Regions from separate parts of the Homo sapiens genome. Here region 2 is linked to region 1. A link means that fine-mapping ties the variant in region 1 to the expression of a gene that starts in the linked region. Tissue or cell type: testis. Region 1 holds a variant in brackets; the other region holds the start of a gene. All regions are shown on one strand. Distances are between the middles of the regions.

What was found. PIP is the estimated chance that this variant, and not a neighbour inherited with it, causes the effect. A credible set is the group of variants that fine-mapping cannot tell apart.
Region 2: it holds the start of POU6F2, and the variant in region 1 is the best candidate, but not a certain one, in a credible set for the expression of POU6F2 in testis (GTEx, PIP 0.64).

Annotation. Positions count from the first base shown.
Region 1 is chr7:39,291,202-39,296,588 of GRCh38, forward strand. The region is part of intron 4 of POU6F2 (POU class 6 homeobox 2); the gene reads left to right. Among named protein-coding and RNA genes, the nearest start is that of SNORA20B, 35 kb to the right of the region's middle. The variant G/C (reference allele first, on the strand shown) is at 2,399.
Region 2 is chr7:38,975,830-38,981,216 of GRCh38, forward strand. POU6F2 (POU class 6 homeobox 2) reads left to right here and starts at 2,080. Exons shown (of 10, transcript NM_001370959.1): 1 at 2,080-2,229. The coding sequence starts at 2,125. It overlaps POU6F2-AS2 (POU6F2 antisense RNA 2), which reads right to left. Exons shown (of 7, transcript NR_138047.1): 7 at 4,066-5,387.

The DNA.
Region 1 (5,387 bases):
ACTGTCTTTCATTTTAGAATAATTAAACATGAGCTAATTAAATGAGTCTTTTGAAAGTGAGATTATTTGATAGCATTAACCTACATTTGACCTGCTGAGGATGGCACATTAGATGCCAATGCATTATTTCAGGTTTTGCATTATGTTGTTGTGACCTGCTATAATTATAAGAGGAAAATTTTTCTCTTTATTTATGACACATAATTTTAGATGGCTTCCAGATATTACATCTCATCTTGTTTTGCTCTTTATGAGATGCAAAGATATTGCCACCATCCAATTACACTGGATCACAAGCTTTAGACCGGCTATGATTTAATTACATTTTTGTTCATTCAAACATTTATACCTCGTGTGTGTTTCCAAATCATTCTCACTCTAGTGGCAATTTCCCAACGTGGCTGCAGGAGAAAATGGCCTTTGAAACAGTGCTCTCTCTGCAGTGCTTTAGAGAGAGAGGCAGCACATGAAGAAGAACCTCAGAAGATGAGGGCTAGGCTTGAAGCACGGTTTCATTAATACCGGATGGCAGAAAAGGAGCCAAGTCCCAGATAATGAGGAAGGAGTTGCAATTTTTTTTAAAGCTATCTGGTGACAGGGAAAACAAAAATGACATTCAGCTGACGAATGAGCGGAGTTTGACCTAGCCTTTTGACCCTTGACAATCAATCTTACCTGCTACTTCATAAAGAATTATAGCTCTGCCACTCACATTTGACTCTGTATTTTTACTATTCCCTTTACCTTTTTTTTTTTTTTTAATACATGGTCCAAGAAGATAAATGTTTATGTTGGATATAGCAGAGAGGAGGAAATATGGGATACTCAGAAGGGGGAAAAAAACTGAGAAGGAGAGGAGAGAGCAACAAGACCAACAGCCATAAAATGGTTTATACATGCAATTCAGAATTGTCAGGGATATTTTTTATGTGGCTGACCAAAATAGCAACTGGAAATAACTGATGACCCTACACACCTTCCACCCGGCGCCGGGCTAGATGTGAAACCTATAAGAGTGGGGGTGAGTCCCGAGCTCATCTTCCTGTCTGCCTCTCTGCTCCCCACCTCCACCCTCTCTAAAATGCATCCAGTGAATTTTGATGAATCCATTCCCCGTCCACGGGCTCTGATTACCATGTTCATTGTGAAGGGTTTTGGTGCCATCATTATGGGAAAGAAAGGGCAGGGAGTCCTGGCCACTGAGCTGTTTTCATTATCTGTTCAAGGCACCAATGCAAGCACTAAACAGTTTGTGCTCGGCCCATCTTTGTGTCCACCAACAGAGCGTAAATCAACAGGGGTGAAAAGTAGCTCACTGGGGAGCGAGAGGAAACACCTTAGGAATAAGAGATAAGGTCTTCGTTGGCATTTGGGATGCATTGTTTTTATATATAATTTGATGCGGTTTGTCTCAAGACACTAAAACTGAGGCTAGTCAGCAAGAGCAACTTTATGGAGCTTGCCCTGTACATAAGCTGACCATGGGGAGTTTTTCTTGCCTTTATAGAGTCGAGAATCTTTTCATGACTGTACTGGAGACTTCAGCAAAAACTCAGTCTCATAGAAGCGGAATGCAATTTTTGACCATTCAATCCATCCTGGATCACTGGGAACGTTAAGCTGTTTTCCTCATCTAGCCTCAAAGAAGATAATTGGGTTGGGGGGCTGCAGGGATGGCTGGGGTCTTGCAGTGGCTCTCAAAACCAAAAAAGAAAACATCAGAGTAGGCTGTGCGCAAATGAGCCGTTTCGTACCTCCCTTCCAAACCCCGAATCTTGCTTGGGCTCTGGCCGCCTCTGTCTTACCAAAAAGAGAAAGCATCCAGGCAAATAAAAAGAACCTAGTGATTGCGTGAAAAGCCACCAATCTAGCTCTGACACCTTTCTCGGTAAGCAGGGATTACACTTTGCTGTTAGCCGCTTCACAAAGCCAGCTGTGCGCCTGCCTCTGCCCGGCCCCGACGGTGCCAGGCTCCTCTCTGCTGCGGGTCAGCTGGCTTCTGGGGGGCCACCCTCCCTCTCCTTGGCATGGAATTCGTTACTTCCAGAATTACAAGGCTGACAAGCTGTTTATGAGGTGTTTCCGGGCTGTGTGTTCATAAAGAATCTCCCCTCAAAATAGGGCGAGCTCGTTAATGGAGGAAGTGAGGTCAGTGTGCTTCTGACAATCCTAACAAGATGACAGAATTTATGAAGCGCTGCGGTAGAAAGATGTAGTTATCTGCAGTCTATTCATATAATAAGGCCGCTTGGGGCCCGTCGTTACTCCCCTTGAATTTATTTTCCTTTCTTCATTCCTTTTTGTTGTCCGGCTCTTCCTTTGGCTTTCCTTTCGGATCTACCTAGAACCATTATCGCTTCAGACCACGTGATAGCCGAGGGAAGCAGGCCCACTTCCT[G/C]TTAAGGATGGGTGGCCCGTTCACTGGACTGTGTGTGAACCCCGGTGACAAGGGAGGGTGGAGTGGGCCAAGTCTTTGGGTCAGCTTTGCATAAAACCTAAATGTGGTACCAAATCAGCAGCACCTGAAGACCGAGTTCACATTTTAACTCAACCCAAAAAAGGAAACCCGTGACTGTTTTTAAAGTCCAACTCTTTCTCATCCCAATGAACGAGGACATCTCTTTTTCTACAACCCTGTGAGGTGAGGTGAAATTGCACTGTCCCTGGGGAAACTGAGAGGCATGAAACCATCCTGGCCTGAGTGATCAGCGAAGACTGGATGGGGAGGTCCAGCTTGGTCTGCACAAGACTGGAGCAAAGGATGAAAAACTTTGAAAGGGAAAAAGGAAAAAAAGTAAGTTAAACCCTTTTGGTATTAAAATTGAGAGGCAATTTGTTAATAGCATTTATTAGTTGTAAAAACTAATAACCAGTTAAGTTGATTAGTAAAAGGAAATAAAGTAGTGCCTGTATTCAAACTATGAGAATCAGGTCTAGTGAGATCATTTCACTGTGGGAGAAAGGTCCCTTCAGAAACCTGAAACCATGATGGCAACAGCTGTCTCTATTTTTTACTCTGACTTGATGTTTCTGGTTAGCCAGAGGAATTAGAAGTAGGTTTTTCCAGCCAATTTGTTAACAAGATGCATTCATTTGTCTAACAATAGTATTAGGTTGGCGCAAAAGTAATTGCGGTTTTTGCCATCAAAAAGTGATGGCAAAAAGCGATGGCAAAAACCACAATTACTTTTGCGCCAACCTAATACTACACAATCCACTGGGGAGAAGGAAAAATAAAAAGAGTTACTTTGGATAAGCAAAACAAAAACATGCTACTGTTTCCTCTGCCTATCTAGACTGAAAGAGCTGTGAAGTAGCAAAAGAGCCAAACTGTGTGTAAGTACAAAACAAAATTTATCTCAGTTGATGTTTTTATAAAACAGAGTCCATCTTACCTTTGAATTTTATGGACCAAAATGTTGTTTCACTAGTTGCTGTACCATTGAAGTCCACCAAATGCACCCTGATTCATTCTAGAGCTCAAGAAAGGGATGGGCCAGTCTTGGTTAAGCCAGATCACCAAGAGATGGCAGGACCTGTGCCACTCCCAGCAGGGGTGGCTAATGTTTATCCAGCCTGATGGGTGTAGGGTGGCTGGGCCATTCCACCTCCCACCTCAAGATTGACTTGTATTTGACCCCAGGGAAGACCTCTTATGGGATGCTTGCTGGACTGAGCCCACAACATGAGAACATTTCAGAGTCAGGCCTGGGACTTATGTTGAAAGACACTCTGCATTGAAATCAGGGGCGGGTCCTGGGGGAATGATCATTTCATTTGGCGAATGAAACAGGAATTCCACAATACTTCATGGATTCAGAGAAACAGATTATGAATAGATTCTCATTTTTCGGTCATGCCATGAACTACTCTAGGGTTAAAAAATTATATTTCTTAGTTTGCATTCTGGTAGTCCTAAGCAAGATTGTTTTAAATGCTTGCTTGCTTGCTTTTTTTTTTTTCAAAATATTTAGTCCAAATTGTCTTTTCCACAGTTATCAGAGTCCTAAAATGAAAACCTAGGGGGTATGCGTGATTGAGTTCTGTAAGCAACACACGAAAATCAGTCTAACTGCTTTCTTGGGACTCATGGGAGAATTGTGACGTGACAATAAGAAGTTGGATATGGGGAGGCCCAGTGCGGTGGCTCACGCCTGTAATCCCAGTACTTTGATAGGCCGAGGCGGGCAGATCACTTGAGGTCAGGAGTTTGAGACCAGCCTGGCCAACATGGTGAAACCCAGTCTCTACTAAAAATACAAAAATTAGCCTGGCGTGATGGCACATGCCTATAATCCCAGCTACTGGGGAGGCTGAGGCAGGAGAATCGCTTGAACCTGGGAGGTGGAGGTTGCAGTGAGCCAAGATTGCCCCATTACACTCCAGCCTAGGAGAAGAAGTGAGACTCCGTCTCCAAAAAAGAAGTTGGATATGGGAAAGAAGAGTGGCAGCTCAAACCTAGTATTTAGATAGAGTAGTCCTGTGTGTTGTTATATCTTGATATCAAGAAGGCAATGCTACTTAAAATGATTTCTACAAACTTCATAGACAATTGTCTAAAATTCATCCACTAGAAATTTCTTCCAATATATAATTAAACATATTCTTTCAAAACACAAGTAACTTGAGAGAATTAACCCAGTTTTATTTCATATCAACAACATGTACCAGACACTAGACTAGACCTGAGGAATCTTGGTACCTGCCTCTGTAAAGCTGCATTTCCCTGTTATCAGCCCTTCACACTTTAGCAGAAATTAATGAGGAGCTAGTGCTGTTATCAGACCTTTGCACCCTAATGGGAGTGCATTTATCACATAAATGTCATCTGTAATAGCTTTATGAGAGCAAAGTCACATCATAGATTTAAGGAAATTGAAACTTAGAGATATCTATTAAGCTTATAGTATTCTAGTTAATAATTTCAGAGTGGAGCCCAGTCTTCCTACATAGATTCCTGCTGTACATTCTCTGGGTTTTTATCTTTTGTGAGAACAAGAGAAAATGGAAGAGTTATTAGATGCTCATTAATTACAGAAACTCTAAAATTAATTATTTATGAGAACTCTAAAACTAATTAATCTGTTTTCCCTACCAAACAAATTTTAAATCTGAATTTTTGCCTTCCCTACTAAGTATCATTGAGAACAAGATACAATATCTTAGTCTAATTGTAGCCCTAATACTCACATTTACCATGTATAGCATTTCAATAAGCTACCATCCCTTCTCCTCTTCCTCTCCTCACATCCAATCTGTTTTCCACGCTGCAACCAGCGTGATCTTCTCAAAATGCAAATTTTAGCATTTTGTACCCTTGTAGCTCTTGGGATAAAAGCCAAAATCCCTAAACACAGCCTCAAGGCCTCCTTCCCCAGGTCTCCTGA
Region 2 (5,387 bases), 320 kb before region 1:
GGCCTCATACTGCAGCTTGGCCAGCCTCTCCCACCCACCTCCACCCACACCCCCAGCCCCCAGCCCCATAGGAAGGCGCTTAAGAAGCTTAGATCCCAGGGGAAGTTGAGCCTCCGATCGGGTGGCAGCGCGTGGGGAACCCAGGCTGCACTACAGAGGACGCAGGACGCCAAAACCACCCCGGGGCTCACGCCATCCGCGCACCGGCTCTGCTGCCTAAGTCCGAGGACGCAGGCGGAGGGCGCGGGGCTCCCGGGCGCCCAGGAGGGCGGTGCCGCCGGGGTGCGCTCCAGGCTTGGCTGCAAACCCCCCAAGAATTAGAAAGCGGGGGCGGCTGCTCAGCGGCTGCTGCGGCCTGGGACTGCAGCTCGCCCCTCCTCCGCAACTTCCCACTGGTCCCGTCACCTGGCTTTCTGTCTAGTGTCCGCCCAGGCGGGGTCCCAAGAAGGCGATGCCAGGAGCAGTCGCGCCCCCTGCCCTCTGTGAGCCCGCAGGTTTCGGGCAAGTTTGGCTCAGTCCTTGTCGATGCTCCAGGCTCGGCTTCCCTGGCCTCCCCTTCCCTGGCCAAAGGAGATGATGGGAAGCCTGAGGTTCTGATCTGGGATAACTGCAGAAACCCCCGGGTAGGACTTCAGCGCAGACGGGACATTTAATGATGTTGAGAAGGGCCTTTCCTCAGTTAGCCCTCAGCTCCCAGGAGGGCTACCCAGTTGGTGCACGGTCTCATTTTATTTGGGGATGCTGATTTAACTGTGTGTGTGTCTGTGTCTGTGTGTGTGTGTTTGTGTGTGTGTGCGCGCGCGCTTCGGTCCTTCATTCTTTGCTCCTAAAGATTTCTTTAACAATGTTGAAAATTGTTTTGTTTTTTTTTTCTTACTTGAAGTTCCTTTTGATTAATTTTCAAGCCGTGGGTATTATGCAATAATATACATAATAGTATATATTCTGTATTAAATATTTCTCATTGCTACCCGACCTGTCATCAGTTTAGAGCCTTGAAAAAAATCTCCATTTTAATATTAACACAAGGTTTTCCCATAAATTTGTTTTGAAAAGTTAGGGAGAGTATACTAACTAATGAACTTCAGTTAAAAAGTAGGCAAATGAAAAAAAAAAAGAAAAAAAGTAGGCAAATGCGAATGTTCTTCACTGCCACAAAGCCACCAAGTTAACGGATGGTGTTTATGGGTTTGGGTTTTTGGAGAGCAACTTTACAATACCTGTAGGATTGTCTTGAAAGTCAGGTTCCGATCTTTAGCCTAAGAAGGTTAAAAAGTTGGTAAGTTATATTCTTTTCACCCTTAACAATAACTGACCCATAATGCATTAGCAATCTGTCCCTAGATTGTGAGGAATCAGATAGTTAAAATTAAATTTAGAAAGTTAAAATACTTGTCATCACATTAAAAACACATTACATCAGTTTAGATGAGCTGCAAGTAAATCATCCCTTACCTTTCAGAAGATAAAAAGTTTAGTGACTGCTATTTACACACTTTGAATATTTTATATTACAGTGGTCATCATCATTTACACGGATTATTTTCTATGTCCACTTCCAATTCACAAATATCAGGGTGTTTGTTATGTAGCAGTTCACATTTCAAGCTTCTCTGAAAAGGTGTCCTTATATAAAACAACAGAGATAACTGCATATTATCAAAAGGTCATTTAGAGATTTTAAAAATAAAATCATTAGGGACCCCTTAAGAAAAGTAGAGCAATGAACTGTAATTTTAAAAATGTATATAATAGCACAAAAATCAAAGTCTTAATGGACACTCATTTGAGATAGTTCATTTTGTTTTTGTTTTGTTTTAAACATAGATTTCTAGAGCATTAAAAACAATCCTCATAGGTTTGTTAAACCTTTAGCGGAAGATTACAGCCCATGTTTTTGTCTTTGGTGAATAGCTGTTTGTCTCACTTTATTTACTTGGTATTGGATATTTGTCAATGTCATTTCATATCTACAGAAAATTCTTACGCTCTGTGGAGGTAGTGAATGTGTGTGTGCGTGTCTGCCGGAGGTCACATGACGGTTTCATTCTATTTGGTGGAGCAGCTTGACTTTTTTTCCCCTTGCTTTTGGTGATGGTTGTGAGTGCAGAAGTTGATTGACAGATGCATGCCAGAAACCCCCATTCTCCTTTTCAAAGACAACATATGATGGATTGCTATCTCTCAGCGCAGCAGGACACGGGGACCATGCAAGCTGTAATTGGTCAGGTATGGAGTCAGCCATTTCTCAACTCCCCTTTTTTCCACAAGGGTCTCACCATATGATTCACATAATTCATATTTACAGTACCATCTTTCTATCTGTATCTTCAGCTACCTGCCAGTGTAGTGCTGAAAGTGCGAAAGGCAAAAGGCACCCATTAAATCTGACCAGGGAAACCTCAGCTTAAAACTTCAATGCGATCCTTTTAAACAAAAACTAAAACAACAACAAAAACACTGGAGAATAAATCTAATTTATAATTTGGTCTGAATGTTTCTTAAAAATCTATTTTAGAAATTTGCTTTCTTTTTGGATTTTGATCTCTGAAAGAAAGTGCGAGAAGAGAATCAAGTGTGGTTTCCTAGGTAGTAGTTAATATTTTTCTAATGCTGTTCAATATTTTTATTTTGACTGTGCTCTCTCCTTCTCTCTTTCTCTCCCTCTCTCCCTTTCTCCATATGGGAAATATAAATATATAAATACATGTGCCTTGACTTCTAACCCAGATAATGTGTGATTGAGCCCGGTAAATGTAGTAGTAGTCTTGGCTGCTGCAGAAGGGCAGGCTGCAAATTAAACACTGTCACAATCTTGAAAGGTCCAGGTGGTCTGCTCGCGCTTCCTAATGCAATCCAGCACAGCAGCTTTAATAAACAGCTCCATTTAGTGCCTCCTCCTTGTATCTAGGGAGGTGAGCTGGTCTGGGGCTGCTGTGATGAAATGCCAGAAGAATATCTCTCAGAGGCCTCACAAGCTGATTTTTAGAGCTTTCCCGCTCTGTCGTCTTTGTCTTCCAAATGGGTCAGTGAATCTTGCTCTTTCTGTTTGGTGCTTTCCGTGAAGTCAGTAGTTTATGTTTGTGTTAAAATGTTTGCGTTGTAAGCTAAATCAGAAAACGAAAAGGATCATTGTATTTTCATTTGCCTTCAGATAACTAAAGTGGTGGAAGGAAGGATAGTACCCTCCTGCAAAGGGAGGGTGATTTTTCTGACTATGATGGGGGTGGGGTAAGGAAAAAGGAAATATACATGGTTTCTTTTCTTTTTTGTAATGTATTTTTGACTAAATTTTTCTAAGTTATCTATGTTTACTTATGGATTGTTAACTCATAAACCAGACTATGGTCACGAATATTTATAAACTCCTAAAAGTTTTTTTTTTTGTACACTTTCCAATCAAGACAAGCTGGCAAGGCAATGACATAAAATTTGTTTGCTTTATGTTAATAGCATGGTGGAAAATATATCATCTTATTCTGTTTTCAACAAAATTATAGAAAAGCACTTCAGGGTTCTGAAAGCACATGGTTTATTAATACCAGCATGCTTGCTTCATAATGTATTTTTAGATGGAAAATGTCAAATACATAATACCATGTTTTCACAGGCTCACACTATTTTAAAAGAAGTAGATATTTGCTTCGACAGAGAAATATTTTTTAAAACTTTCAAGTTAATTTTTGTTCTATAAGCATATATAAAGTGAAGTCTCTAGGCAGGAGAAAATATATAAACTGATTTTATATACTCTTAATACCTGTTTCAATGTAAGTACTCACTGACGAGCAAATATATCAAATATAGCTAAAATAATTGTGGTGTAGGGAATGAAATAAATATCTGTTACAATAGATGACTTTTGCATATTGAAATAAAACTTGAGCCCCTGATCACTGTCTTGTCCTGTTTAATAAAACTTTTCTTAGGTTGCAGGTCCTGTCTTCTGTATGGCATAGTTATGGTTCTTAATACCGTGCAGAATTACTGTACTTCAATCTCTAATAAGAATAGGATTTCCTTTTTCTATATATTTCTGGTGAAAAAATCAGGAAAGTCACTTGTAGTTTGTTATTCAGTATTGTTTATTGGAAATCAATTGTAAAGGCATATACTTTTTAAAGGCTCAGGTATATACTTAAAAAAATGAATCAGGACATATTTTTACAGATAGTAGGCTTAACTTCTAATTTGTCAGGATTTAAAATTAGTTATTATTACATAGCTCTGTATTTTGTATGTACTCTTTAGTATAATTGTTAAAGGTTCCACATGTCTAAGAACTCTACAGGTTAATGACTTCTTATGAATACATTGTAAATAGTTGCATCAAAGTAGTCACATGCTTTCTGAAGGTGTTATTTCTCATAATTTGTTAAAAACGCCTCAAAATGCCAAGTCAGTAAATTACAAAAGCAATTGTGCTGAAGGTTGTAAACATTTCTGTGCTAAAATGTACAAACTAGAATGCTGATTTTTTATTTGAAATTGAAACAGTAAGTATTTAAAAGGAAAGAAGAATAGAATATTGTCCTATATGTATACCATAAAAGTCAGAAAGTCTATATTGAAACCATATCTAGAAATATAAAAAAGAAAGGTGGTATACATATTTGAAGTGGATTCATTTCAATAGTTACAGCACAGATAAGTGTATTTACTCAAATGATTACTTCTAACAATAGGGAAAAGAATGTGAAAATAATTTTTATTGCTCTGCTGTCACTCAAAACCAGAAAGGGATGGTTTATTTTTTAGCTCTTGTCTTAAATATCGTCTTATATCTACTCAGCAGGTGTGAACAAGCCCATTTAATAATGCAAATGTTTGTGTTTGTTTCTGCTCAAATACGTTTTGGAATAATTATTATTTTTGTCTTTTTTTTTTCCTGTTCTGAGTGCTGTTCCTAGATGGCTTTGGGTTGGAGGAGCAAATAACCAGTTTTCAGTCAGAATATTGAAAGATTCCCATGAAGTATGAGCTTTAGGTTTTTTCATTCACTCCTAGGATGAAATATCCACAGTTGCTTCCACTGTAGGGAAGAGTAGACTTTTCTGTTTCTGGCCATGATCCAGCTCAGGACACAGCGCTGGCTTCACAGAGTAGAAATTGCTCATATATGCCTTTCCCCTAGGATTTCTCCTCCCCCAAGCAAGCAATTAAGCAGTCTAGTACTTGGAAGAACAAACTCCCTGCCTAGTATATCAAGATGAAGAAACTTGGTTCATTCACACAATTTTTGGAAATCAAATCAGATTTCTGATAGCAATTACCTGTAGTTAGCTTCCTAACCCCTTGAAGGTAGGATGGATTGTTATTCATGGGATGATTTTCAATTCAATTCAATTACACAGTTAATCAGTTTCTGATCGTTGGTTTGATTATCA